4 linked regions of the Homo sapiens genome follow. The protein of the gene in region 2 purifies or fractionates together with the protein of the main gene of each other region. This does not show direct contact. Each region holds a gene or a part of one and is shown on either strand. Other genes may lie near its edges. The genes, in order: DIAPH3, HS2ST1, TBC1D23 and SLC7A1.

Region 1 (5,876 bases), on a different chromosome or scaffold from region 2:
ACGCTGAGGCGGGTAGATAGCTTATCCCCAGCCTGGCTTTGTTGCCAGGCTTTAAAAAAGTGAACTTCCGGCCGGGTGCAGTAGCTCACACCTGAAATCCCAGCACTTTTGGGAGGCCAAGGCGGGCGGATCACGAGGTCAGGAGATCGAGACCATCCTGGCTAACACAGTGAAACCCCGTCTTTACTAAAAATGCAAAAAAATTAGCCGGGCGTGGTGGCGGGCGCCTGTAGTCCCAGCTACTCGGGAGGCTGAGGGAAGACAATGGCGTGAACCCGGGAGGTGGAGCTTGCAGTGAGCCGAGATCCCGCCACTGCACTCCAGCCTGGGCGACAGAGCAAGACTGTCTCAAAAAAAAAAAAAAAAAAAGTGAACTTCCAGCTTGAGCACTTCCTCTACCTGCACTATCTCTAATTATAGTGGGATAGGCAACTCCTCCTGTCCAGCTTCATTTATCTGCTTTGCAGTTTAAGATCTGACTTGCTCATTTCTACAGTTTTGGTCTCCCATGTCTGGAGACAAACCAAAAAGAAGGTGAGGACCAGAATGGGGGCTGTTGGGGTGCTGAGAGCTAATGTGAGGGCTGGGAATGAAGAGTTGTTATCTAGGAATTTCTAAGAAAGCTATAAACATCTTTTAAAAAACTCTTGTGCACTTTTCTTTTTTATTTCTTCAGTGGTCTCAGGAATGGCCTCTTTCCTTTTTACACTGTCTTGTCTGTTACTTCTCATGAAAGATTCCTCACCTGAAACCACAGAGGAGATAAATACCATCTTAGTTTTTCTCTTATCATTTTGTCCCTAAAGCAAGCCCACAGCTATTTTGAGTTTTCTCAAAAGGATAGAAATGCTTTTGCCTGCCTTGGCCCATCCATTATTATTTACCTTTGTCTCCAAAGAAGTTCAAAGACCAAACGCTAAAAGAAAAACCCAGGAAATGCTAGGCATTTCATCCTTGGATCTGGTATAGATCAAGGAGTACTAAGACATTCAAAATAGATATGCAATCCTTGTTTTTGGCAGCATGCATGTTCATTAGCGACCTTGACAAGAACTGTTTCAGAAGAGTAAAGGGTCAAAAGCATGATTGGAGTGGGTTCAAGAGAAAAATAGGGAGCGAGGAATTAAGAGAGTAAGTATGGGCAATTCTTTCAAGGTATTTTACTATAAAGGGAGCCAAGAATTTAGATAGCTGGAGCAGGATGTGGAGACAAACAGAGATTCCCCCCACCTCATAAATTTATGATTATTAGAGCCTCTCTGCTGAGGGGAATGAGCACCTGGAGAAAGAAACCTTTACAATGCAGCAGAGAGAGGGCAAAGCAGCCAGAGGGATGTCCTTGAATAGACAAGCAAAAGTCACATCCAAGCAAAAGTCACATCCGTCACTCACCTTGAGGGCTGTCCTCAGAGGGGAGCTCGGAAGGTTGATTCATCCTAACAGGAGGGGCGGATGTATGTGTGTGCAGTAGGCAGATAATAGGTGTTGGGGAAGGGGTGAGGCACGTGCAGGAGCTCTCTTCTGATCACCTCTATGAGTGAGTTAAATGAGAGGGAGGACATATTGGAAGTTTCAAAGAGTGGAGAAGGTGTGGAGCAGTTGTCTGGGAGAATGGAAGAGTGAATGGACTAGGGAATTGTAGTGGGTTAAAGGTCATGCTTTTGAAGTTCATAGTCATGAATCTAAGTGAGACCAGGAAAGAAATGGAGGATATGTGTGACCTTGGATATACTGTGTTAAGGTAGTTTACATAGGTGTACTATCTGCTTTACAAAGCTGTTGCGAGAATTCAGTGTGTTAGAAGGCATTTTGAAGTATAAGTGCAGGACACCATTATTATGAAACTTAGCTTTGAATTACTTAGCACTTTCCTTTGGCAAAAGGGTTTTCAGATTTCTTGAAGACAGCCTCAGTATCTCTAGAGACAGCATTTGGCGTCTACCACCGATTTACTCAGTAACTAAGTCTAAGCAAATGACTTAACCTCCTTTTGCTTTTACCCCTCAATCTATATGCTGAGGGTGGTAATGTTTGAAGTGCAACAAAATACAGGCTATTCATAAGATGGTATGTATGTATGTGTTTTGTGTGTGTGTGTGTGTGTGTGTATACATACATATATATATATGTGTATATATATAGTTTTAATAATTTGCCTACCAAGTTCATTATTTCTCTGAAGGAAAACCACTGACTAAAAATTCTGATTAGAAACTTTCCTTCTTGGTTTCGTTCAAGAAAGAAATTAATGTCATTAGTATTCAAACTAAAGTTTATCTTGTGTCACAGAGTATGGAAATAATTTCTTTACCCAACACATATTTATTGAGCACCTACTTTGCACCAAGGACGGTCTAGGCACTAAAGCTATAGCAATATTTAAAACAATGTCCCTACTTTCTTGGAGTGCATACATGGACACGCGCACACACGCACACACACATTTCATATTCTATACCCATATTTTGGCTAATTTAATCTCTTCTTTGCCATTAGACTTTTAACTAGAGTTGTCCAATAGCAGAATAAACTGGTTTGTTGGAGATACCATCATGATGTAGTGGTTTGCAGGAAATCAAATAAGCAAAGATAGGAACATTTTGGGGAAGGAGCAGTAAGCTGGCCAACATTCTACATTTAGCTGCAAATGCAGTTTTCAAGCATTCTTTGGGACAGAGGTGTGGGAGCTAGAAAAGAAAAGGATGTGGTCATAGGAACTGCAGGAATACCACATCTACCGTGCTCTTTCCGGCAAACACAATATGTACATTATAAGCTACAGAGCATACACTCCTTTAAGAGAAAATCACTGCTCTATTAGATTTTGATTTTTGAGTAACAGTTGCCCACCTGATATAGAAGGTGAAAGACAAAGTGTATTTATTTTCTTCCAGCAGCTAAAAGGTGATCATACTTCTAAAATTTGTTGAGATTGTCCAAGAAAGTGTGTAAAATCCTCATCCATCACTGGAAGCCTCTGGTCAGAAAATGACAGTGCAGTAAATATCTTCAGCAGCCACCTTTTAATGTACAAGCTGTTTTCAGTTGGAATTTTCAGCACTCACATAAAACACACTGTCATGAGTGACTGCTTGTGCTCCAAAGTCATTACTATTGGGACAATGGAACATCTCTCAGAGAATAACCAAAAAACTTTAAATGTCATGTCAGGTTTGTTGAAGCCATTTTCAAGCCCCATTCAAGGTTACATGAATATTGAGGGTGTCTGTTTTTTAAAAGTCATCATTACCATCACTTACCAATAAAAGAATGTATGTGTGTATGTATATATGTACATGCATGTATGTATAGATGTGTATATACTTGACAATTACATATAACATTCTGGTTTGCTAGGAAGTTTTAATTATTTGCTTGCCAAGTTCATTGTTTCTTTAAAGGAAAATAATCGACTTTTTAAATTCTTATTAGAAACTTTCCTTCTTGATTTCATTCAAAAAGGAAATTAATCTCATTATTATTCAAGCTAATGTTTAATCTTGTGTCACAGAGTGTGGAAATTATTTATTTATCCAACAAATATTTATTGAGGACCTACTTTGCACCAGGGCCATTTTAGGCCCTGAAGTTACAGCAGTATTTAAAATAATGTCCCTACTGTCTTGGAGCACACATTCTAGTAAGACAGACAATGGACAAGTGAGCAAATATATTGTGTGTCCAGCCATCATGTGCCCTGTGAAGGAAAACATGACGGGGAAGGATAGAGCAGTGCAAAGGGCAAATGCTATTTTAGATGGGTGGCTAGGGAAGGCCTCTCTTTTTAGGTGGTGTTTGAACAGAGACCTGAAAGAAATATGGGACCAGGCCCTGATAATAACCACGTGACAGGCATGTCAGGCATAAAGGAAGAAGGAAATGGGCATTAGTGCTAATGAAACGGTTGGCTGTTATATTTTAGTTTATTCTTAAACCCCTGTGTGATTATTTTAAACCTGTCTTACTCTGTTGACTGTTTCTTTGTTTAGTCTATCTAAGAAGACTACTTATTTATTGAGAATAATTATTTTAAATGTGTTTCATAACGTGCACAGTCCTTGGTTATCATGGTGATAAGTTTTATGTTTCTTTTTTCCTTACTGTAGAAAATCAGAAAGTGCAGTTGACAGAAGGGTCACGTTCACACTACAATATCAATTGCAACTCAACAAGGACTCCAGTCGCCAAGGAGCTTAATTATAATCTAGACACTCATACGTCTACTGGGAGGATCAAGGCAGCTGAGAAGAAGGAAGCGTGTAATGTAGAAAGCAACAGAAAAAAGGAAACGGAACTTCTTGGCTCTTTTTCTAAAAATGAATCAGTTCCCGAAGTTGAAGCCCTGCTGGCAAGATTACGAGCTTTATAAGTTAAACTGGTTTTTAAAAAAAATGATTAAGCCAAATATAAAGCCATGCTCTAAACTATAACACTTGAAAAAATTGCTTTTATGTAAGTGACTTTATATAGTTTTAAATTATGATATATATTAGAAAAATAAAGCTAAATATATGATTGCAATGCTTTTTCTATGTACTGGAGGTTTTGGTTTATTCAAGATTGTACCGGGCTTTAATCCTTTTTTTTTTTTTTTTGTCTCCTGGTATTCCTCAGTTCTTTATTTGGTGGTTAAATTATACATATTGCTTTAGAGAGCAGGTAGGTGGCCATGTGTTCAGCAGTGTGTCCTTAAGAAAATACCATCTTTCTAAGCCACTGGAATTTTTACTTTACTATTTTTAACATTAATGGATGTCAGGTCATCAACCTCAAGTCTTTACATATCCATGTATATTCCATATATATTGTTTATATAGGCCCAAGTTTCTCCTTAATTGGGATCTATATACTACCAGCACAACATCAAAAACATGTAATTGAATACATCAGAGCTATATATGTAAGGAAATGACTGGTGACCCCATTATCATCATTGTTGAATTCATGTTAAGTAGACCCTCTAGGGGACCATAAGGCAATTGAGCACATAACGAAAAATGATGCAATAAGAATGTATGCACTCTCTTTGCCAAATGCATGTGCTTTTGTGTAACGTGGATGTAAACAGAATTGCAGTGCTGCCGAAATTCTTGATCTTGGCTAAGAGAGTATTTTTCCCCTTGTAATTATGACTCTGAGATAAAATTGCCATTTTGAAATTTCCAAAGTAACAACTTTTTTTATTTTATGAATAAACTTGGGATTGCAATTTCTCTGATCTGACAATCAATAACTTTAACAAAGATCTAAATAAGTGTTTCAAGGAAAGTTTTCCTAAGCAAATGTAATATTACCTCATTTGGGCATCATTACTCTGTTAATTCTATATCAAAGGAAATAAACTTGCTACTTGCACTAAATGAAAAAAAATGCTTTCTTTTGTCTCTCTTTTTTTGAAAACATTCTGTGGATAAGCTGAGAATAGACTGTGCTATGCAGTCTGTCTAAGCATCTATTTTGCTTTATTACATGTAATAAGTAAGTGACTGTTCTTTTACCTTCAGTTAAAAAGCAGTTATATGGAACTAGTCGGGCAAGGTCTATTGCTTTTTATTTCCTTAAGTTGCCACCTCCTTTCAGCTCTAAGTTAATAAAGTTAATTAATTAGAACTATGAGCCAGGCCCTGTTTATAGACATTGGAGAACAGAGTATTCTCTGTAGCCAGTGTAGGAATAAATGTGAATTTGTATGTATTGCTGAAATGTGCATTTTGCCATCCAGTTGCAATTCCTGTTTTTCTGAAAACAAACCTTAAAAATCAAGAAAGGTGAAGGACATTTACATATTTAAGCTGACGGCACCCCTAACAACAAGGCAGGATTGTTTTGTTTAGGAAAGAATTTAAATGAAAGAACTCTCACTATCAGTTCTTAAT
Region 2 (7,030 bases):
ATGTCTTTCTTATATTTCAAAATATATTCATCCCTTCACAGTAGTCCCAAAGTCTTATTCCAGCATTAACTCAAAAGTCCCAAGTCCAAAATCTCATCTGGAGATGAGTTCCTTCTACCTATGAGCCTGTGAGATAAAAAACAAGTTATTTATTCCCAGTAACAATGGTGGTATAGGCATTGGATAAACATTTCCCTTCCAAAAGGGAGAAATTGGCCAAAAGAAAGGCGCAGTAGGCCCCACACAAGTCTAAAACCCAGCAGGGCAGTCATTAAATCTTAAAGCTCCAACATAATCCTTGACTTCATCTCCTGCATCCTGGTGCAAGGGGTGGGCTCCCAAGGCCTTGAGCAGCCCTGCCCCCATGGCTTTGCAGGGTACAGCCCACATGGCTGCTCTCATGGGTTGGAATTGAGTGTACCTGTAGTTTTTCCAGGCAAAGCGTGCAAGCCGATGGTGAGCCAACCATTCTGGGGTCTGGAGGGCATAATCACCTTCCCACAGCTCCACTAGGCAGTTCCCTGTTTGAGTCTTTGTGTGGGGTGAGGGCTGCAGTGCAACCCAGTTCTGAAATCTAGGTGGAATCTGCAATCTAGGTGGAATGCAAGCTCCTTCATGCTTGCATTCTGAGCATCTGCAGACTTAACACCACCTGGAAACCACCAATGTTTACAGTTTATGCTCCCCCAGAGTGGTGGCCCAAGCTATACCTGGACTCCTTTGAGCTGAGGCTGGAACTGGAGTGGCCGGGATGTGGGGAGCAATGTCCCAAGGCTTCTCAGGGCAGCAGGACCCTGGGCCTGCCCCCTTAAATCATTCTTCCCCCCAAGGCTTCTGGGCCTGTGATGGGAGGGGCAGCCTGGAAGATCTCTGAAATGCCTTTGAGGCCTTTTTCCCATTGTCTTGGATATTAGCAGTTGGCTCCCTTTTAGTCATGCTAACCTCCTTAATAAGTGATTGCTCCACAGTGTTATTAAATTCCTTCCCTATTCCCTGCCCTATTCCCTGGAAAATAGGCTTTCCAGTGGGAGTGGTTGCTCATGCCTGTAATTCCAGCACTTTGGAAGACCAAAGTGGGAGGATCACTTGAGCCCAGAAATTTGAGACTAGCCTGGGCAACCTCATCTCTACAAAACATAAAGTTAGCCAGGTGTGGTGGCATATGCCCATAGTCCCAGCTACTTGGGAGGCTAAGGTAGGAAGAACACATGAGTCCAGGAGGTTAAGGCTGCAGTGAGCCAAGATCCAGCCTGGGTAACAGAGCAAGACCCTGTCTTTAAAACAAAAAACAACAAAAAGAGGGGGCTTTCCTTCTCTACCACATGGCCAGGCTGTGAATTTTCCAAATGTTTATGCTCTGCCTCCCTTTAAAATGTAAGTTCCAACTTTAAGTCATTCCTTTGCTCTTGCATTTGATTGTAGCCTCTTAGACACAGCCAGGCCACATCTTAAATGCTTTGCTGCTTAGAAATTTATTCTGCCAGATGTCCTAAGTCATCACTTTTGTGTGTGTGTGTGTGTTTTTTGTTTTTTTTTTTTTTTTTTTTTTTTTTTTTGAGGCAGTCTCACTCTGTCAGCCAGGCTGGAGTGCAGTGGCACGATCTCGGTTCACTGCAACCTCCGCCTCCCGGGCTCAGGCAATTCTCCTGCCTCAGCCTCCTGAGTAGCTGGGATTACAGGCGTGTGCCACCATGCCCAGCTAATTTTTGTATTTTTAGTAAAGATGGGGTTTCGCTATGTTGGCCAGGCTGGTCTCGAACTCCAGACCTCAGGTAATCCGCCTGTCTCGGCCTCCCAAAGTGCTGGGATTACAGGTGTGAGCCACCGCACCCGACCAGTCATCACTCTAAGTTCAAACTTCCATAGATCTCTAGAACTTGGACACCACATAGCCAAGTTCTTTGCTAAGGCATAACACAGGTGACCTTTACTCCAGTTCTCAGTAACTTCTTCATTTCCCTCTGAGACCTCATCAGCCTGGACTTCTGTCCATATTTCTGTCAGCATTTTTATCACAATCATTAAACCAGTCTCGACTTAAGAAATTTCAAAGTTTCCCTCTTCTTCCTGTCTTCTTCTGAGCCCTTCAAATTCTTCCAACCGCTGCCCATTACCCAGTTCCAAAGCCACTTTCCCATTTTCAGGTATCTTTATAGCAACACCCAACTCCTTAGTACCAATTTTCTCTATTAGGCCATTCTTACATTACTGTGAAGGAATACCTGAGATGGTAATTTATAATGAAAAAAGGTTTACTTGGCTCATGGTTCTGCAGGCTGTGCAAGCATGGCACCAACATCTGTTTGGCTTATGATGCAGGCCTCAGGAAGCTTACAATCATGGCAGAAAGTGAAGTGCGAGCAGGCACATCATATGGCAAGAGTGGGAGAAAGAGAGTGAAGGGGGAGGACCCAGTCGTTTATTATTATTATTATTATTATTTTTGAGACAAAGTTTTGCTCTTGTCGCCCAGGCTGGAGTGCAATGGTGTGATCTCGGCTCACCGCAAACCTCCACCTCCCAGGTTCAAGCAATTCTCCTGCCTCAGCCTCCTGAGTAGCTGGGAATATAGGCATGCACCACCATGCCCAGCTGATTTTGTATTTTTAGTAGAGATGGGGTTTCTCCATGTTGGTCGGGCTGGTCTTGAACTCCCAACCTGAGGTGACCCGCCCACCTTGGCCTCCCAAAGTGCTGGGATTACAGGTGTGAGCCACCGCACCAGGCCCCCAGTCTTTTAAATAACTAGATCTCTAATGAACTAACTGAGCCAAGAACTCAGTCATCACCAAGGGGATGGTGCTAAACCATTCACAAGGGACCTGCTCCCATGATCCAGTTACCTCCCACCAAGCCCAGCCTCCAACACTGGGAATCACATTTCAGAATGAGAGTTAGAGGGAACAAATATCCAAACCATATCACTATGTAGTCTGCAAAACCTAAAATATTTATCCTCTGGCCTTTTATATAAAAAGTTTGCCAATCCCTGCCTTAGAACAATAAAGACTTGCTCTATTGGGCATTTTTGAGAAGTTAATTGTATTTCTTTAGTATGTTTCATAGATTCACAGAACTGGGAGGGTTCTTAGAAACCAATTAATCACTGTTCCCCTCCCCCTCTTTGTTTTTTTTAATAGTTTGAGAAAACAAAATTGAGAAAGGTGAAGCCACCAGCTCAAGATCATACTGCTACTTAAATGCAGAGCTAGAATTTGGATTAAGGAATATTTGTGCTAAAAAGAACCCAAAAGTATAGTTTATTTTGGATCAAATCTCTGTTAATAGCATTAGCTGACAATGTAAATTAAAATAAAAATAAAAGATTCTTAGCAGAGCCATTATCTATTTTCTGTTCCTCAGAAATTTCAGAAAACACTTAGCTCACAAAAACCCGAAACTCACACAATAAGCAGTAAACACAAATTGTTTACACTTTGCTAGAGAGCTCTTAACAGAATTTAGAGTAGTTTAAAAAAGTTAAAACACACACTAAATCATATGGGAGGGGTGTATGTTTCTTATATCCATATACATTTTTAAAGTGCCCTTAAACTAAATTGCTCATGTTAAGAGTCCTCTGGTAAACTCTGAATTAGCACTCATAGTTGAGCAGAAACTGGAGATGGAAGCAAATGAAATTGGAAACAGGTGTGCCTCCCACAGGATGGTAATAAAGAGGCATTGAGGCTTTGGATATACATGTGTTTATCTATTTTCTCTGTAATATATGGTGTCAAAGGCACCAGAAACACTCAGCAGATTTCACAACCAGGTTTTAATTCCTTTTCTTTGGTTTCAGGAATGTGGGAAGCAGGTGGGCTATGGATCAAGCCAAGTATAACCTAATTAATGAATATTTTCTGGTGGGAGTTACTGAAGAACTTGAAGATTTTATCATGTTATTGGAGGCAGCATTGCCCCGGTTTTTCAGGGGTGCTACTGAACTCTATCGCACAGGTATATAAAGGAAGGGTTTCTTTTTAAAGCTTTCTTTGGTTTGGTTTTTTGGTTTGCAACTTGTAAATATGTGATTTGAAGTTTCTTCAGTGAAACACAACAGATAGCTCCAGAAAGGCAGGTATCTTGTCGGTTTCTGCTCACTATTTTCAATTGAGTAACTGTGAATTAGGTGAAAATTAGAAGGCACTGTAGAAATAGTGGAATGATACAAAGTACAGAACCAGCCATAGAAATGTATGGTATTCAATAATGCCAGATATCAAACATTAGGCCTGTGTATAAGTCCTGCCTACTACCATTTTGAAGTAGAGGTGTGATAGGGGAACTGAAGTATGCCTAAGCCATGTTTTAGCAGCCTCAGCCGTATTATCATGTGTCTGAAAGTGATAAGCTAATTGTGTTTTTGTTTTGTTTCGTTTTTTGCTATTGCTTGATAAGATGCAGTCATAGGAACTCTTCTCCTTGAGGATGCATATGCCCTAGCTTCTAACACATAATTTTAGAGAATACAGATTATGAGAAAATAGAATACAGTTTGACAATAGGTATTTTATCAAAAATAAACTAGTCTCAGAGCACCAAGCACTTGAGAATATAGTGTGTGAGGTGACAGCCTACACTTTACTGTGTGCCAATCCTTACATTGACTATTTGACATTTCATTAAGTCTTTACTAGGTTAAGGATTAACATTCTAAAGGACTGAATCATGGCTCTAGTTTGATCAAGGCTCCGTTTTTACCTGAATTATATAAGACAATTATGTTACCTGTTCTTAATGTGTCATATTAACCACCTCTTCAAATAAAGAGGCATTGATCTTTTGTGTGTTCTCCAAGAATTATTTACCTTTCCTTTTTTTCCCCCTTTGTAAGTAGGAAAGAAATCTCATCTTAGGAAAACCACAGAGAAGAAACTCCCCACTAAACAAACCATTGCAAAACTACAGCAATCTGATATTTGGAAAATGGAGAATGAGTTCTATGAATTTGCACTAGAGCAGTTCCAATTCATCAGAGCCCATGCCGTTCGAGAAAAAGATGGAGACCTCTACATCCTCGCACAAAACTTTTTCTATGAAAAGATTTACCCTAAGTCGAACTGAGTATAAGGTGTGACTATTGGATTCTTGAACTAAAATTTGACCCTGTCTTCACCTTTGTTCTCAGCTCCACAGTCTGGATTGCTGACAGTAGGTGTATATGACAATTTGTATTGAGCCAAATTAGGAAACAGACAGTAACGTCAAGGAAGTAGATACTGGCTGGCATTGTCAGTGTTCTAAGTTTCAGGCATTTTTATTTTTCCTGGCTAAACGTTGGTGAAAGTTATAACCTCCTGCCTGGGAGAAAATATACATCACCTAAAATGAACTTATGGCAGGTCTAATCAAAAGGCTAAATACAATTTCAGAAAAGGTTCTGATACTCTTGTTTTTGATAAAGCATTTTTTCAACTAACCATGAATTAAGATGAGTCCATTTGCCTCTTCTGCCTTCACTGAGGGTTTGGGTTATACACCTCTACTGAATTGTGTTAATAACTGTTTGGCAGTGTGTACTTTGTTTTTGTGAGTCATGTCTCATGAAATTTATTGGAATGTTTAATCATATTTGCTAAGAAATGTTTCTGCTGTAGTTGGATTTGCCCATATTTATGTAGGTGGTTTTAATTTTTTAAATGGTGATTAGTGTTAAAAATCAATTTAAATCATGACTAATATGGTAAAAAGATAAAGCATCAAAGCAGTATTTCTCATTCCTGCCTCCTCAATATCTAATACTGGGAAGATACTTCAAAGAATATTGAGATTGTCTGAAGTTTTAGTTAAGATTTTCACACATTAATATCAAAAAAGTAAGTTTAGTATTTGTTTCTCCATGGGTTATTTGTAAAGCTGTAAACTGAGATATCGGTGACTCCGTATTATGACTCCATTAGTGAGCTGTGGTATGGGTAGGATTTTCCTACTTCTTCTGTACTTTTACCTGTAGACTATTTTTACTAAGGTGCTTTATAATGTGTTTTAAAGCATTGCATTTACAAAACAAGGAAAATGCTGTAAATATTGCATATTTTATGTATTTGGACCAAAAGGTTACAAGTAATTAGACAAAAGTGGTTTTGCACCAATTTTATGTCAAGTAAAACCATCAGACCTACTGTTCTTGTATTTCTCATTTAACTTTACTGTTAAGACATCACTGAAATGAACTTCAGTAAGCTTTCAATTTTGATACACAGTTCATTATTCATAACTTGAGGCAGTAATTACAGTGGAATGAGTACTGGACAAGGAGTCAAAAAACTTGATTTCAGGTCCTAGCTCTAGCACTTACAGCTGTGTGATCTTGGGCAAGTCACTTAACCTCTCTTTGCCTCAATTTCCTCATCTTGAAATGAGGATAATAATACCTGCTGTACCTACCTCACAGGGCTGTTGTGAGGATTAAATGAGATGGCATGTGAAAGCACTTTGAAAATTGTAAAGCGCTATGTAAATGTAAGGTATTATAGAAACATCTTTAACATATAGTTTCATACCATTCATTTTTTAACAAAGAAAGGGAAAAGTCTGCTTGTAAGCTGGTTGAAAAAGTTAATCTTGATATAAATTTGTGTTTGATAAATATCCTCTCAGTGTTTTATCTTCCATGTTTCAACAACTATTGAAATATGAAATGCCTGTGAACTCTTAAAGCTTCATGAGCAGCTGCTTGAGTTCAGGAAGTTCACTGTTAGAAATAGGCTTTGTTAGCTGACTAGGGTCAGGGAAACTTTTCTCTTCAAATTTGAAAGCTGTTTCTGTTTTCATTTTACATTATTATTCAGAAATGGTAGCTATTCTATACCTATGGTTTAAGTAAATATTTCTGAATAAGGCTTCACCATACTGTAAGCATTTTAGGTAGATTGCCTTAAAGGTTATGGGAGGGCATGAGGGAACACTTCTTATGAGAAAACATTTATAAACAAAAGAAACATTTATAAACTAAAGAAAAACTAAAAGAATGACAGAACAATCATCTTAGCACCCTTTCCTCACAATAATATAAAAATATTAAAAG
Region 3 (7,030 bases), on a different chromosome or scaffold from region 2:
TTCTTTACTGGAAAGTCTTAAAATACATAGAAGGAGAGTGTCTGTTTGAGCTATAAAACTAATTATAATTAATTATAAAACTAATTATAAAACGCTATATAGTTATAAACACAACTCTAGATATGCTATTCTTTTTTGCAAATAAATCTGCAAATTTATCAACAGCTCAATTCACGTAAGAACTAAACATCTATTTCGTGTGGGGGGATGAAGGGAGAATGTTCTGAAATACCAGTTTCAACTAAAGAAGTTCACATGGATCTCTTTAAACTGGATAACATGTTTTCATTTGTTTTTAAATATTAGTTTGAATAAGAAAAAAGTGAGATGCTTGTATTTTGAAAATCCTCAATAACCAGCGCAGATACAGTAAGAAATCCAACTAAGAAAGATCTACCATAAAAGGCTATTTTCCCACGTCCATTCCTTTCCTGCCCTCAACCTTGGAAATACACTACACCTTCCAAATACACACCATGGTTAACTGCTGCACTACTAGTAATAAAGACCATATATTAAAAACATCATTGGTCAAATTGACTTATTAGATTTTCATGAAGAAAATTTCATTTTCACAATTCTCCTTTGCTATAAGTTGTATGGAACTAAACCATGTAATTCAATTAGCTGTAAACTACCAGAAACTGTTAAATGCTAAATTCACCCTTTTAAAAGTATTTTATACAATGCCACATTCAGTTGCTCTACTGAAATATGGAAAAAAGATACGGCGATTTACAAAAACTGGTGTCAAGAATGTCAACAATAATTAATTGTAGACAATTAAAACACCACACAAGCTGACAAGTTTTAAAATGACCCTCTGAACATAACATTTAACACAATCATTCAAAAAGCCAAAAGAGCCACCTTGTTGCAGTAAATTGATTTTGTGGGAATCAATGAACAGGGAGGAAGTTGGTTCCTTGTATTTAAAATGAACAGTCCCCTAACAAACTGGGTTTCCTTTACTTACCCCTTGTAGCTGATTCGCTTGAAGGATCTCTGACACGGAGATGGCCAGACAAAGAGCCTGACTCAGATCTGCATCATCATCCTTAATTCCCAACAAAGTACTACCAAAGAGATGGTGATTATCCTGTTTGAAGGGAAATTTTTAAACATTATGAAAAAAAAAATCAAACTTTCTTCCTAAAAATATTCTTATTAAACCATGATAAAAGGTAAAATTATAATACTCTTGAGTTGTGATTTTTTAAAACTTAATACTACATAATCTCAAATTTTATAGGCTAAGAACTACAAAAATGTCACATAAAGTCCCTGTCAGTGTTCATACAAAATGAAAGACTAAGAAAAAAAAAACACATTCTAAATAGCTATTTTCTATACTACCACCTGTAGTTAATATTGAACTTTAAAAATGGTTACTTACAATTTTTCATATCTTAATAAAAACAAATATGTGGCAGAAATCTATTGCATAAATGAGTTAAAATACTGATCCACAGCCTGCTCTAATTCACAACTGCTAGTACAGTTTCACTATGTCTGAAGAATAAAAGGTGCAGCTCTTGAATAAGAAAAAAAATAAGACTTCTTTTTCATTCAGTATTTTAAACTACTATCCTACCATCTGACTTATACAGCATTGTTAGGAACTGAAGAGTTCTATATAAGAAAATTATTAAAATAGTTGAAACTGGTCCCTAGAAATAAGTCTTTTTAAATTAGTTATTTTTGAGGGAAAATGATCTTAAAAGGTTTCCTTTACCTGCTTTCTAAAACACAGTATACTAAACATAACTTAACTTTATCTTGACACTTCAGTGACACGATGAGTACCAACTAGAAATTATTATGGCAGAATGCTTTAAAAAAAAAGGTGCTCTCATGGGCACCTGAAGTCACATACAAACCTGTCTGCTTTATAAACTTGTGCCTCTTCCACTATTAGCTTTTGCTTCTTAGAGTTTCATTTTTCAGGAGTTCACATCACTCATACTTCTAATCTGGTGTCCTTTATTAGGCATCTGTCTGGTCTAAGGATCTAAGTCTTTACGGGGCCTAAATGACCTTTCTTTATAAGACAGCTCAGCATTATTAAGACTATACAAGCCTGAACTCCAGAGAAAAGTGGCAAAACTCTACCTCCTCCACTGGATTACTACTGTAATATAATTTTTTTTTTTTTTTTTTTGAGACAGAGTCTTCACTCTGTCGCCCAGGCTGGAGTGCAGTGGCACAATCTCAGCTCACTGCAAACTCCGCCTCCTGGGTTCACGCCATTCTCCTTCCTCAGCCTCCCGAGTAGCTGGGACTACAGGCGCCCACCACCACGCCCGGCTAATTTTTTGTATTTCTTAGTAAAGATAGGGTTTCACCGTGTTAGCCAGGATGGTCTCGATCTCCCGACCTCGTGATCCACCCACCTTGGCCTCCCAAAGTGCTGGGATTACAGGCGTGAGCCACCACGCCCGGCCCTGTAATATAATTTTTAAAGTCAAGAAAGCACTAATTTAGAAAATATCTCAGTCAATTTTCTTATGATCAGAAATAACAATAATCAGAAGAGAGGTAAGATGCGTTCTACTATCTTTTTAACTTGTCTGTTCCTCCACTAGGGAGGGTATTTACAGAGATGAAAAAAAAAAATCACACAAAACTACAACACATAAAGAAACAGAAAAAATTGACAACCTATTTTAACTAAAGTGAATATAAAGTAATAAAACAATGTACAAAATATGAAATACAACATAGTTGGTCATTTCTGGTCTTATACCTTCCTAAAAGAAGCCGGTGTTTTGCTGCAATAATACTGAGCCAGAGAGAAAAGGTCTTCTATATCTTCTATATTCAGACTGGATGGAGTATTTTCCAAGAACTCTGAAATATTATAGACATAATATTTAGTAGTTTGTGAAAAATGCAAATATTGTTTATGTATCAGAGCCGAAATATCTTCATCATAAATACTATGCAAATGGAGTCTCAACACTGGTGCTTTTACAATGACTTGTGGAAAAGTGGATTTCTCCAAATGAGCTGAAACGGCTAATGTAAATCTCTTGTCAGTGAAGGATAGTGTCAGGCAATCAAATCAAATTCATTAACCTTAATTAGAATTCTATGATTTATTTATTAAACATATATGAAGAAATGCCAAGGCCCCTGAACATAAAAAATGCCTAAGAAATAGTTACTGACTTAAAGAACTTTGTCTTGTGTGAAAAAATAAAAATAAATCATTATAATACAGTAAGATAAACATTGTTATACAGATAGAACAAAGTGCCAGGGAATATAGAGAGGAAGTAACTATCTCTATGTGGGGGATATGGTGGGGAGAATCCAAAAGGAGAACCAAGGTTTCACAATTGAAATATCATATAAACTGAGTATTGAAAGGTAAATTAAGGATGGGTAGGGAGGAACAGAGGAGGGCAATCTATTCGAACAGTGAAACTAATGAAATAGTATATGGAAAGGAATGAAAGAGTGAACAAATATGAAGGAATGAATGAAGATGGCAAAATAAAGGAAAATAGTCTTTAAGGTCTGTACCTGGAGAGTGTTTATATAATCTGAGAGTTGAATGGAGCCTCAGAGCTCTTCTAGACTAATCTCCTAAATTTACGAATGAGGAAACTGAGTAACTTACACAGATAAAGAGACCTGAAATGTTTTCACTACATTAAATGATACTTACTGATAACTTCTTCTTTGCTGTCTGACTCTTGTGTTAAAATAACTTCTCTGTAAAAGGGAATCAAATCAATTTGAGTTAAATATTAACAGAGCACCCTGAGAAAAGAGGAAAAAAAATCTAACCAACCAGATACTTACTTTGCATTAACAAGGATAATTAACATTAAGAAATAAATAAAAAATGGATCTGCTTGTTGTAGATATCCATCCCATATTGCCTGAGTGACTTCAGTGGAACAGTAACATGCAAAAAGACTTCCAAGCTGTAATCAGGAAATGAAATGAGAGACATAAACCACTGGAGGTGACTTGTTCTCTTAAAAGTATTAAAGCAAATGAATAAGAAACATTATATCAAATTATCTGCACCTGATATTTAATGCGTACCTTAATCTTAGTGTATGAAATCCAAAGGCAAAACATGTGAATTCAAGGGACAATGGAGCCACATATTAACTGTGTGACTTAGGACATGTCAACCTCTTTAAAGCTTCCATTTTTACTTCTGTAAAAAAGAGGAATAATGCTACCCATCTTCTACTATTATTGTGAAAAGAATACCTAAAGTAACTAGCACATATCTTTGCCATAGCATAACTAGCATAATTATGGTCTGAGCTCCATAAGAGTAACTAAAATAATTACAATATAATAACAGCACAGTATTTAAATTACAAGGTAATTGTGAGGATCAAACGTGGTAATTTAAGAGCAGCTAATAAAACTTTAATCATAATATAAATATGAATTGCTCCCAAAGCTCACTTGTACATCACTTGAAAGAGATTAGGCCGGGCGCAGTGGCTCACACCTGTAAACCCAACACTTTAGGAGGCCAAGGTGGGTGGATCACCTGAGGTCAGGAGTTTGAGACCAACCTGGCCAACATAGTGAAACCCCGTCTCTACTAAAAATACAAAAATTAGCCAGGCATGATGGCACGTGTCTGTAGTCCCAGCTACTTGGGAGGCTGAGGCAGGAGAATCACTTGAACCTGGGAGGCAGAGGTTGCAGTGAGAAGAGATCTCACCACTGCACTCCAGCCTGGGTGACAGAGTGAGACTCTGTCTCAAAAAAAAAAAAATAAACACAAAAAAAAATAAATAACATTCATATCCTTCAATAAATTTCAGGAGCTAAGAGTTGTTAATTTATAAGCAACTCTACAGCCCAACTGTGTTTTAAGTTGCATGAAGTAATATTTTTAGATCATTCAACTTTCATTAGATACAGAAATAATTCCATCTACAAGTTTAAATTTAAAAAATTTTTAACAGCTAAAGAGAATTAACGGGAACACATATATTTAGTGCACTCTTTGTGCAATACTAAGCTAATACTAAACTATTATCACATACCATTAAAAATATCTCTTACTTAAATTCTCACAACAGGTGTGCAATACTAAGCTAATACTAAACTATTATCACGTATCATTAAAAATATCTCTGATTTAAATTCTCAAAACAGGCCTGGAAAGTAAACACATTTCTCCCCATTTTACAGGTGAGAAAGTAGATTTCAATTACTCCCCATTTTTTTCAGGCGAGGAACTTGGATTACTTTACTTTCTCAAGCTCACAGAGCTAGTGAGTGGTGTTGGGAACAGAAAAAAGCCTGAGATTCCACAGCCCATGTAATTGCCATCACACTTGACCACAAGGCTTTTAAAATACATAATGCTACTAATGTTTTTTGTGGTTGCTTTAAAAATTACGATTACAAACACAGATTAGAAGAGGTACATACAAACAGAATAGCAATACACAGTCATCTTTAAGCTCACTTAGCTCAACGAAAGTTACCACTGCATTGCTCACAGTGGTTTAGGAATTACTTTTTAATTGTTTCATCTCATGATACTTAAAAAACTCTATTTCATCAACATGATACTAGTAGCAAGAGTAAACTATCTGAGGCCAGGCACAGTGGCTCACGCCTGTAATCCCAGCACTTTGGGAGGCCGAGGCGGGTGGATCACGAGGTCAGGAGATCGAGACCATCCTGGCTAACATGGTGAAATCCCATCTCTAATAAAAATACAAAAAATTAGCCGGGTGTGGTGGCGGGCGCCTGCAGTGCCAACTACTCGGGAGGCTGAGGCAGAAGAATGGCGTGAACCCAGGAGGCGGAGCTTGCAGTGAGCCAAGATCATGCCACTGCACTCCAGTCTGGGTGAAAGAGACTCCGTCTCACAAAATAAATAAATAAATAAATAAGTAAACAAACAAACAAACAAACAAACTATCTGGCATATCAGCTGAAGAGAAACCACTCAGTTTAAACCTCCAGCTATCAGCACGAATTCAGAGCTCTGGCATCAGAAATGGCATTTCCTAGGCAGAGAGACCTCTATTATTAAAATGCCTAAGAAAAATAGTTTACTACCTTAACATAAATAGGTAGATTCAGTGGCAACATATGAATCTCAGAGAAGCTACAGTTTTGACAAGACTAGGCTTGGCTCACACCTGTAATCCCTGCACTTTGGGAGGCCTGCGTGAGAGGATTGCTTGAGCCCAGGAGATTGAGACCAGCTCAGGCAATATGGTGAGACCTTGACTCTACAAAAAAATTAAAACATTAGCCAAGTGTGGTGGTGCATGCCTGTGGTCCCAGCTACTCAGGAGGCTGAGGTGGGAGAATCACTTGAGCCCAGGAGGTGGAGCTTGCAGTGAGCCAAGACTGTGCCACTGCACTGCAGCCTGAGAGACCAGAGCAAGACCTCGTCTCAAAAACAAAAACAAAAAACTGACAAGACTGTGGCCAAGAGGGAATTAAAGAACAGGTTACTGAGGTTTGAGATTTAATGAGCCCAGAAGTGAAACCAGTTAGAATTCTCCAATTACCCATTTCCTGATTGTTAACTCATCCTATCATCCTCTGAAGTAGGTACAGTACTATTATTTCCACTTTGCAGATGAGGAATTGAAGCTCAGAGGCTGTCTTAGATCACACAGTTAATAATGGGAAGAAATGGGATTCTTCCTGAAGAAAAGTTAAGTAATACATAATAAAAGGATATGAACATATAGTCTCCTAGGACCCAATCATTGTTTTAGAAAGATCTCAAGTTAACCAGAAGAGCAGCAGTTAACCAGAAGTGTGGTCTGGGGACCTCGTAGAAGTCCCCAGGATTCTTTACAAAGGATCTGTAAGGTCAAAACTATTGTTACACAAATATGTAGAATTTACCTGCCTTTTGCATATATATTCCCTCGAAAATGAACAATAGAATTTTCCAACGCCTACATGATATGTGATATTATCACAGATTGAAATAAGGGCCAGGTGTGGTGGCTCAGGCCTGTAATCCCAGCACTTTGGGAGGCTGAAGTGAGCAGATCACCTGAGGTTA
Region 4 (7,030 bases), on a different chromosome or scaffold from region 2:
GCACCGGGCTTCCAGAATCCTGTGCTAAGCTGACAGTACAGAAGAGGCAGCCAACAGGGCTCTGAATCCCAAGTGCCTGAAGGAGGAATGAAACAATCTCACCAGAGAGGAAAGGACAGCTGTGACAGTCACCCTCCCTGAACAAGACCACTGAGACCAGGGATGGACATCTTCCAAGCTAACCTACAGTGCAGGTAAGAATGGGAAGCTGCATTTTTAGATAACTATCCATTAGAAACCAGGACGACATATGAACAGTGTATCTTGGTAGCCTTGGATGCTCAAGGATGAGAAACCCTGGGCAAACCAGGCAAAAATTCTCAACCACAGGACAGGACAAACTGGCCCAAAGGTTCCTTAGTTACAGAGTAAGTAAGAAGAAGCTGTAATTCTACCCCATCTGGGAACATTAGGAAAAAGACAACATCTGATACTCTGATTTCAGTAGAACTGGATTCTTCCAAAAATATAAATGTCAAAGTCACCCATTCACAGTATAATTTGTACCAAAGTGCAAAATGGGGTATGTATGTGTGCCAAAGAACAAAATCTACCAGAACTGAGCTGCTAGGGCAAAATTACAACAGAAACTTAAAATAATATATTGTCCCATCCACCTGCCAAAACATTAGCTCAAAGACATTCCTCCTTTAAATACAGTTTTACTAATTATAAGAATAGTCATTCAATAAATATTTCTTGAGCACTATTTTAGGTGCCACAAACACTGCAGTGAGAAAAACAAAGTCCAATTTTTCCAGTCTTTTCTTTCTGTGCAAATACATATATCTCATTAAGCTAACACGGAACATGGGAAATTGCACCCAGATGGTTTCACTTTTAACATTAAAGTTTCTCCCACAAAATCAAATGTTCTTTGAAAACGCCATTCTTACTGGCTACATAGTATTCTAACATGGAAATGGTATCATGATTTACTGAAAGACACTCCCAAATGCTTACCACAAGATAAAAACACAAAGGAGAGACATCATTAAATAGAACGTTAGACCTAGATTCAGAGCCTTAAGGAAAAAGAAGAAAAAAAAGGAAAATACAATCTTACAAATCTCAGAGACCCCACTATTTTCCTCCACAGGGATGAATATTCACATCCACACCACTGGCCACATCAAGCTCTAATTTGTGCATCTCCCTTTATAAGCCCCACTCCCTCTTTGATCGAAGAGAACATTGTCTGCACAGAACAATACGTTTTCATTTCAATTTCCCTTCTTTTCAGGAAAGGAAATGTTTGCACTTCAAAGGGTTTCTTTGAAGAGTAGCCCTTCAGCTCTGGCCCGTCCAGGTTGGGCGTTACGTGGACTCAGCAGGGTGTGTGGAGTCTGGGCGGCTGCCCACCGAAGTCACTCTCAAGGCCAGCTCCTTCAAGGAGAGGGTCTGGGGCCGGAGTAGAAAAAACAAACACATGGAAAAATACTCAAGGCTTTTGATCATGACCTTCAGAGGCCCATTTTCACACATAACATAGACTTACAGCTCAGGGAAACTGAGGTACAAATGATGGGGAGCTGAGGACAATGACGTAGTAGCTTCTAAGAACAAAATCCTTCCAGAAACCAGACTCGCTTAGCAAAGACCCGTTCTGGGCCAGGAAAGGGGAGAGCCACTCTCAGTTCCAGCTGTTATGGCGAATGGACCACCTAAGCGGACAAAGCAGGGAAGCGAGATCCAAACTTCACTACCTGCACCAGTTTTAAAACCTTTCCCTAGGAACTTTTGAGAAGCACAGTCATTGGCAAACAGCAAACTTCACATGGTAAAATTTCACATTTTATTTCTTCCGTAGCCCACTGGTAGGGGCCAAGAGGCTCATTAAAAGGCAAGTCTAACAACCACATGAAGCACCCAAGAGCTCACTGATATGGGGCCAGTGCTGTTTCCCTCAATCACGCTCCAGGCCCCATCCTTAACCTCTGCCAAGTCCAGGAAGCAAGGGGTATAGACCAGACAAGAGTGGGCCTGCAACATTTCTTTTCAAGTCTCAAACAAGTTCTGGATATTTATTAACGATCTCCACCCTTCCCCACCTGGAGGATATGCACCACAAAGGCACCACCAAGGCTGGTTAAGTCTGCCTGCTCGGTGGGCACCTGCCCAAGGGGTGGGCAGGAGCATGAAAGACCGTCAGCTCCAGACAGGGGCCGGCTCCTCCCACAGCCCCAGGACTTGGCTGCGGGGCTCCTGACTAGTGTGTGGGTGGTGGAGGGATCACGAGTCTGTGTGGCCAGGTCACCAGAGCTGAAGGAGCTGAGAAAGTCTTTCCACCACCTTTCTGGTCGATCACTCAGCCTCTGAGCTGGAATTATGAATGGGTTTTATTTTCTCCTTCTTTTAATTTTCTGTAGTTTCCAAATTTTCCACAACAAACATTCTAACTTTTAGAAACACTTTTTCTTAAAAAGGCTTATGAGGTAGAAAATCACACCTCTTTTGAAAGAACCCCCACACTGCAAAACTCCTTCCCCAAAAATACTTAGCTATAAAGGACATTATGTGGACGACTGCAAGTCAAATATGGACTGTGGCCTAGATCGCAGGGTTGTATTAATGTTAAATTTCCTGACTTTGCTATTGTACCATGGTTATGTGAGAGAAGAGCCTTGTTCTTAGGAAATATACACTGAAGTATAGAGGGCAAATAAAATGGCATGACGTCTTCAGCTGACTCTCAAATGGTTCAGAAAAAAATGTATGTGTCTGTGTGCATGTGAGTTTGTGTGGGGTGGAGAGAGAATAGAAGGAGGCAAAACATAACCCACCTGTGCATCTGAGAGACGGTACCCAGGAGTTCCTTGCACTCCTGCAAATTTTCTTTTCTTTTCTTTCTTTTTTTTTTTTTGAGACAGTATCTCACTCTGTTACCCAGGCTGGAGTGCAGTGGTGTGATCTCGGCTCCCTGCAACCTCCGCCTCCCGGGTTCAAGTGATTCCTGTGTCTCAGCCTCCCGAGTAGCTGCAACTATAGGCATGCGCCACCAACACCAGGCTAACTTTTGTATTTTTCGTAGACATGAGTTTCACCATGTTGGCCAGGGCTGGTCTCAAACTCCTGGCCTCAAGTGATCTGTTTGCCTCAGCCTCCCAAAGTGCTGGGATTACAGGCGTGAGCCACCATGCCTGGCCTCTGCAACTTTTCTTTAAGTTTGAAATGTTATCCAAAAACTGCTGAAAAAGAAAAGGGGAAAAGGAGAAGGGCAAAAGGGATGAGGGAAGAGTTCTCCTAACTCTAACTGCCAGTCTTTCCCAGGGGCCTTCACTGGGTCCCAGAAACTGCACCCTAACGCCCCCAGCTCCTAGACCAGGCCTCATCCCAAGGGAGGGCAGGAGGTGTCCCTGACACTGTGGAAAAGCTGCGGGCCAGGAAGACTCTCCCAAGTCACTTTGGGGAAGACGGGCCCTTGCTGCAGGCCCTGGTGTGGACAGCTCCTGCCCCAGCCTCTCTGAGAGTGTTAAAGATGCATCCTCTAAGGAAAGGGGGCACCTCCGCAAGATATTGTAGAAATCAGCAAAGCCAAGCCAAGGGCAGGATGACAGCGGCCACTGGCCTTAAGAAGGATGGAACACAGAAAAGGAAGCTGACTTTCCCCTACGAACAGTCTCTGATTTCCACAAGACCCCCTGCAAAGGGGTCTCCCCAGGTGGAGATGGAGGTGGAGTGTGGGCGTGGCTGGATGGTGATAAATCAAACAAGGCTCCATTGTGGTCTGGGCAGGAGGCATTGCATCCAGCCAAAGGCTGGTGATGTAAATGCCAAACTACTGACCCAGAAAGAATGCAGCCCAGCCTCCGTCACACACACCGGCTCCTGACACTGGCCACGTCCCAGCGCAGCTGCCCCAAGGACCCCAGGGCTCCAGCTGTGCCAGGTGCCTGGACTTGGGAGGGGGAAGACCCACTTTCAGAGACAGCAGAGGGAAATCAGGGCAAAGAGAGGGGAGGCAGGGTGCCCTCCAGCGTTGGGGCGGGTGACCGGTGCCAGCACCACCTGGACTCAGCCAGAAACAGAGGGACGCAGGCAGATGGGCTTCAGATCTGTCTGCCTCCCACTCAGTGTACACAGGGCAGGCCAGGCCAGGCCTATCCCGAGACAGGCTGGAGTCCAGGTACAGGCAGACATCTGGGTTCCAATCTTCACTCTGCCACTGACTGCCTACCTGTGTGCCCGTGGGCCACCTGCCTTCCCCTCTCCCCATCAGTCACACCAGAAGGGCCGATCCCACTGGGTGGTTAGGAAGATTCAAATGAAACATAGATAAAGCGCAGAGTACATGGTGAGCACTAAATAAGTGCTTGCAATGATTGATCTTACCTAGCCCCAGGGCCCCTCCCTTCCTTCCTACTTGGCCTAACAGACTTTGGCTAATGGCACTCAGTAAGCAGACAAGATGCAGAGAAGGACACTTCGAACACGTCCATAACAGATCAACTCCAGCCACTTTGTGGGGAGGATGAGCCCCTGCCTTCTCACTGCTGCCCCCAGGTGGGTGTCGCCCACCACCCCTGTGCTGTATGGAGACATCCTATCCTACAGACCCAAGCACGGGATGAGTGAGGTGGGAAACACGGCCCAGAGTTTCAGCTTTTCAGCTTTGCTTTTTCTAAAACCCAAGGGCTTCGGAGTAATTTGAACAACATGTTTGGGATGACTGTAGCCAGGGCAGTCACTCCCGTCCTGCCCCCCACCAAACACACACACATACATATACACATACACATACACATACACATAAACATACACATACCCACACACAGCAAACACTAAGAAAGGGGCTGAGAGCTCTGTTTCCCAGGAGTCCTAGAAGTCACTGAGCGCAAGGTGCATGGGTCTGAGTCCTAAGCAAACCTGCACCCCATGCTCAGGGAGACATCAGGATTCCAAAGAGAGATGGCTTCAAGTCCATCCAGGCAGTCAGAGCCAAAACAGCCCAGAGACTATTGTTCCTTCCCTCAGACCTGGGACCAGATGGGATGGTGAACCTGTCAGCAGATGCCTCAGAGGCCCGCATCCCTCCTCCAGCACCCTGGGACTATGTCTGCCCCTTCTAATTTAGAAACCCACCCAAGGAAAGAGCACAACATTTTAATGCCTTGGTAAAATGAGAGAGCGAAATTAAGTTGTTGTAAAAATTATTTTTCTCAGGGCTAGGCTAAGTGGCTCACGACCATAAACCTAGCACTTTAGGGAGGCGAGGCAGGTGGATCACTTGAGGCCAGGAGTTTGAGACCAGCCTGGGCAACATAATGAGATCCCTTCTCTACCAAAAAATAAAAAATAAAAATTAGCCGGGTGTGGTGGTACACACCTATGGTTCCAGGTACCTCAGAGGCTGAGGTGGGAGGATCGCTTGATCCCAGGAGGTGGAGGCTAATACAAGCTGTGACTGCACCACTGCACTCCAGCCTGGGTGACAGAGTGTGACCCTATCTCAAAATATATATATATTTTTCTCCCACACCTAAATCAAGGAACTGAGCCTTCTTTCCAGTATAATAGTTAACACTTACATGCAACATTTAGACTTGTGCCAGAGGCTGTGTTAAATCCATAACATGGATTATCTCATTTAAATCCTCTCAGTCCTATAAAGTAGGCACTAGAAGGCAATTATTATGCAAACAATATGAAAAAGAATTTAAATGTGGTTCTGAGGAATATCTCAGAAAAGACACTGACCCCGTAAGTGGAACCCACTCTGGGGCTCTGCTCTTTCTGCCAGTAGGGATCATGATGTCTCCTTTGACCCCACAGCGTAGAAGCCCCATAACCTCATGTTGCAGAGGCCCCATACCGAGCAGAGGCCACTCCCTGAGTCACCACTGCTAGATGGTTTCTACAATGCAGAACTCACTGTGCAGGACACGGCAGTGTGGGATCCACTTTTAAAGAAACAGGAAAGCAGCTGGTTGCCCTCACAGCCAAGAATCCGATCTGAACAAGTATTCTGAAGAAAGCACTGCAGTAGGAATATGGAAAGCTAGGAAACAAAATTGCCATGCCCTCTGTGCCCCCAGAAAAGGGAGGGGGGCAAGGGGACAATCAGAAAAAAATGGAAAGACAATGTAGCCAGACATAGTCCTACCAGAAGAAGGGACATCCTCTCCCACCTCCAAATAAACCCCCAGGTTTCCTCGCGCTTGATTTTTGGTTGCCACGGTCAGAAATTTTTGGTTGCCGTGGTCAGAATTGCAGGCTGCTAACAAAAGGACTGATCTCAAGAGAGAAATGTAAATGCATGGACTTGGTGCCTTGATTCTTTCAAAGAACACTGTGGACTCCATGCTTCCTAACTTCACTACTGTGAGGCTGAGAGGGACAGGCTCTCCCAATATACAGATGGAGCCAGTATGTAAGGTTCACGAAGTCTAAATTACTTCAGAGAGAAGCAAAGCCAGAGAAGCCAGGAGCGGTGCTGTTCCCAGTATTGGTCCCAACTCCCCTCAAAGAAGCATCCTTCGTTTCAGGGCAGATAATCATCCCATTCTGCATTGAAGCTGTGAAGGCCTCTTCCCTCAGTCACACGGCTCTGATTCCAGTTATCCAGTGTGTTCACCAAATGCAATACCTGCCATTCCCCACTGTTCCTGACAATAACTAGAGGAAAAAAGCCCAATGAAAGCCACTGGGTGTGGCAGGAGGGGCAAACCACAGACCAGCCAGAATCTGGTCCAAAGCCCAGAAACATCTTTTCTGAAGCCCAAGTTCCTGGGATGACCAAATCTCGACCAGTGGGCCAGGTAAATGGCATCCCCTGGGTCTGCCAACACTGCACATCTGAACGAATGCCTTGGGAGAAAAAGGAACACGGCTAGCAAGCCACCAAATCATTTTCCCAGTTTGATGCCCATCCTTCTGGTAATTCCATTTGGAAATGTACTAAGCCTGGATTGACAGATCATGACCCACACTGAACCACAGGGGTGGTTATTTTCAAGGCTGCTTTGTAGATGGGTATGGGAGTGGGGGAGGAGGCAGATTATGGCAAAACAGAAAGGGAGGCCACTAAAGT

What was found.
Region 1: the proteins of HS2ST1 (region 2) and DIAPH3 purify together in Homo sapiens (affinity purification with mass spectrometry; 4 studies listed by BioGRID and IntAct, with this or other methods). This does not show direct contact.
Region 3: the proteins of HS2ST1 (region 2) and TBC1D23 purify together in Homo sapiens (affinity purification with mass spectrometry; 3 studies listed by BioGRID and IntAct, with this or other methods). This does not show direct contact.
Region 4: the proteins of HS2ST1 (region 2) and SLC7A1 purify together in Homo sapiens (co-immunoprecipitation; 4 studies listed by BioGRID and IntAct, with this or other methods). This does not show direct contact.

What each region holds. Positions count from the first base shown.
Region 1 is NC_000013.11:59,665,077-59,670,952, reverse strand, and holds the end of DIAPH3 (protein diaphanous homolog 3), read left to right. Parts: intron 1-4,106; coding exon 4,107-4,369; 3' UTR 4,370-5,370; downstream 5,371-5,876. UniProt on the Homo sapiens protein: Actin nucleation and elongation factor required for the assembly of F-actin structures, such as actin cables and stress fibers. Required for cytokinesis, stress fiber formation and transcriptional activation of the serum response factor.
Region 2 is NC_000001.11:87,099,630-87,106,659, forward strand, and holds part of HS2ST1 (heparan sulfate 2-O-sulfotransferase 1), read left to right. Parts: intron 1-3,802; coding exon 3,803-3,960; intron 3,961-4,840; coding exon 4,841-5,067; 3' UTR 5,068-7,030. UniProt on the Homo sapiens protein: Catalyzes the transfer of a sulfo group from 3'-phospho-5'-adenylyl sulfate (PAPS) to the 2-OH position of iduronic acid (IdoA) or glucuronic acid (GlcA) within the heparan sulfate (HS) chain and participates in HS biosynthesis.
Region 3 is NC_000003.12:100,291,992-100,299,021, reverse strand, and holds part of TBC1D23 (TBC1 domain family member 23), read right to left. Parts: intron 4,178-7,030; exon of another isoform or gene 4,096-4,177; coding exon of another isoform or gene 4,060-4,095; intron 3,936-4,059; coding exon 3,811-3,935; intron 3,721-3,810; coding exon 3,674-3,720; intron 2,851-3,673; coding exon 2,747-2,850; intron 1,100-2,746; coding exon 977-1,099; intron 1-976. UniProt on the Homo sapiens protein: Putative Rab GTPase-activating protein which plays a role in vesicular trafficking. Involved in endosome-to-Golgi trafficking.
Region 4 is NC_000013.11:29,585,659-29,592,688, forward strand, and holds part of SLC7A1 (high affinity cationic amino acid transporter 1), read right to left. Parts: intron 1,135-7,030; exon of another isoform or gene 1,067-1,134; intron 1-1,066. UniProt on the Homo sapiens protein: High-affinity, low capacity permease involved in the transport of the cationic amino acids (arginine, lysine and ornithine) in non-hepatic tissues.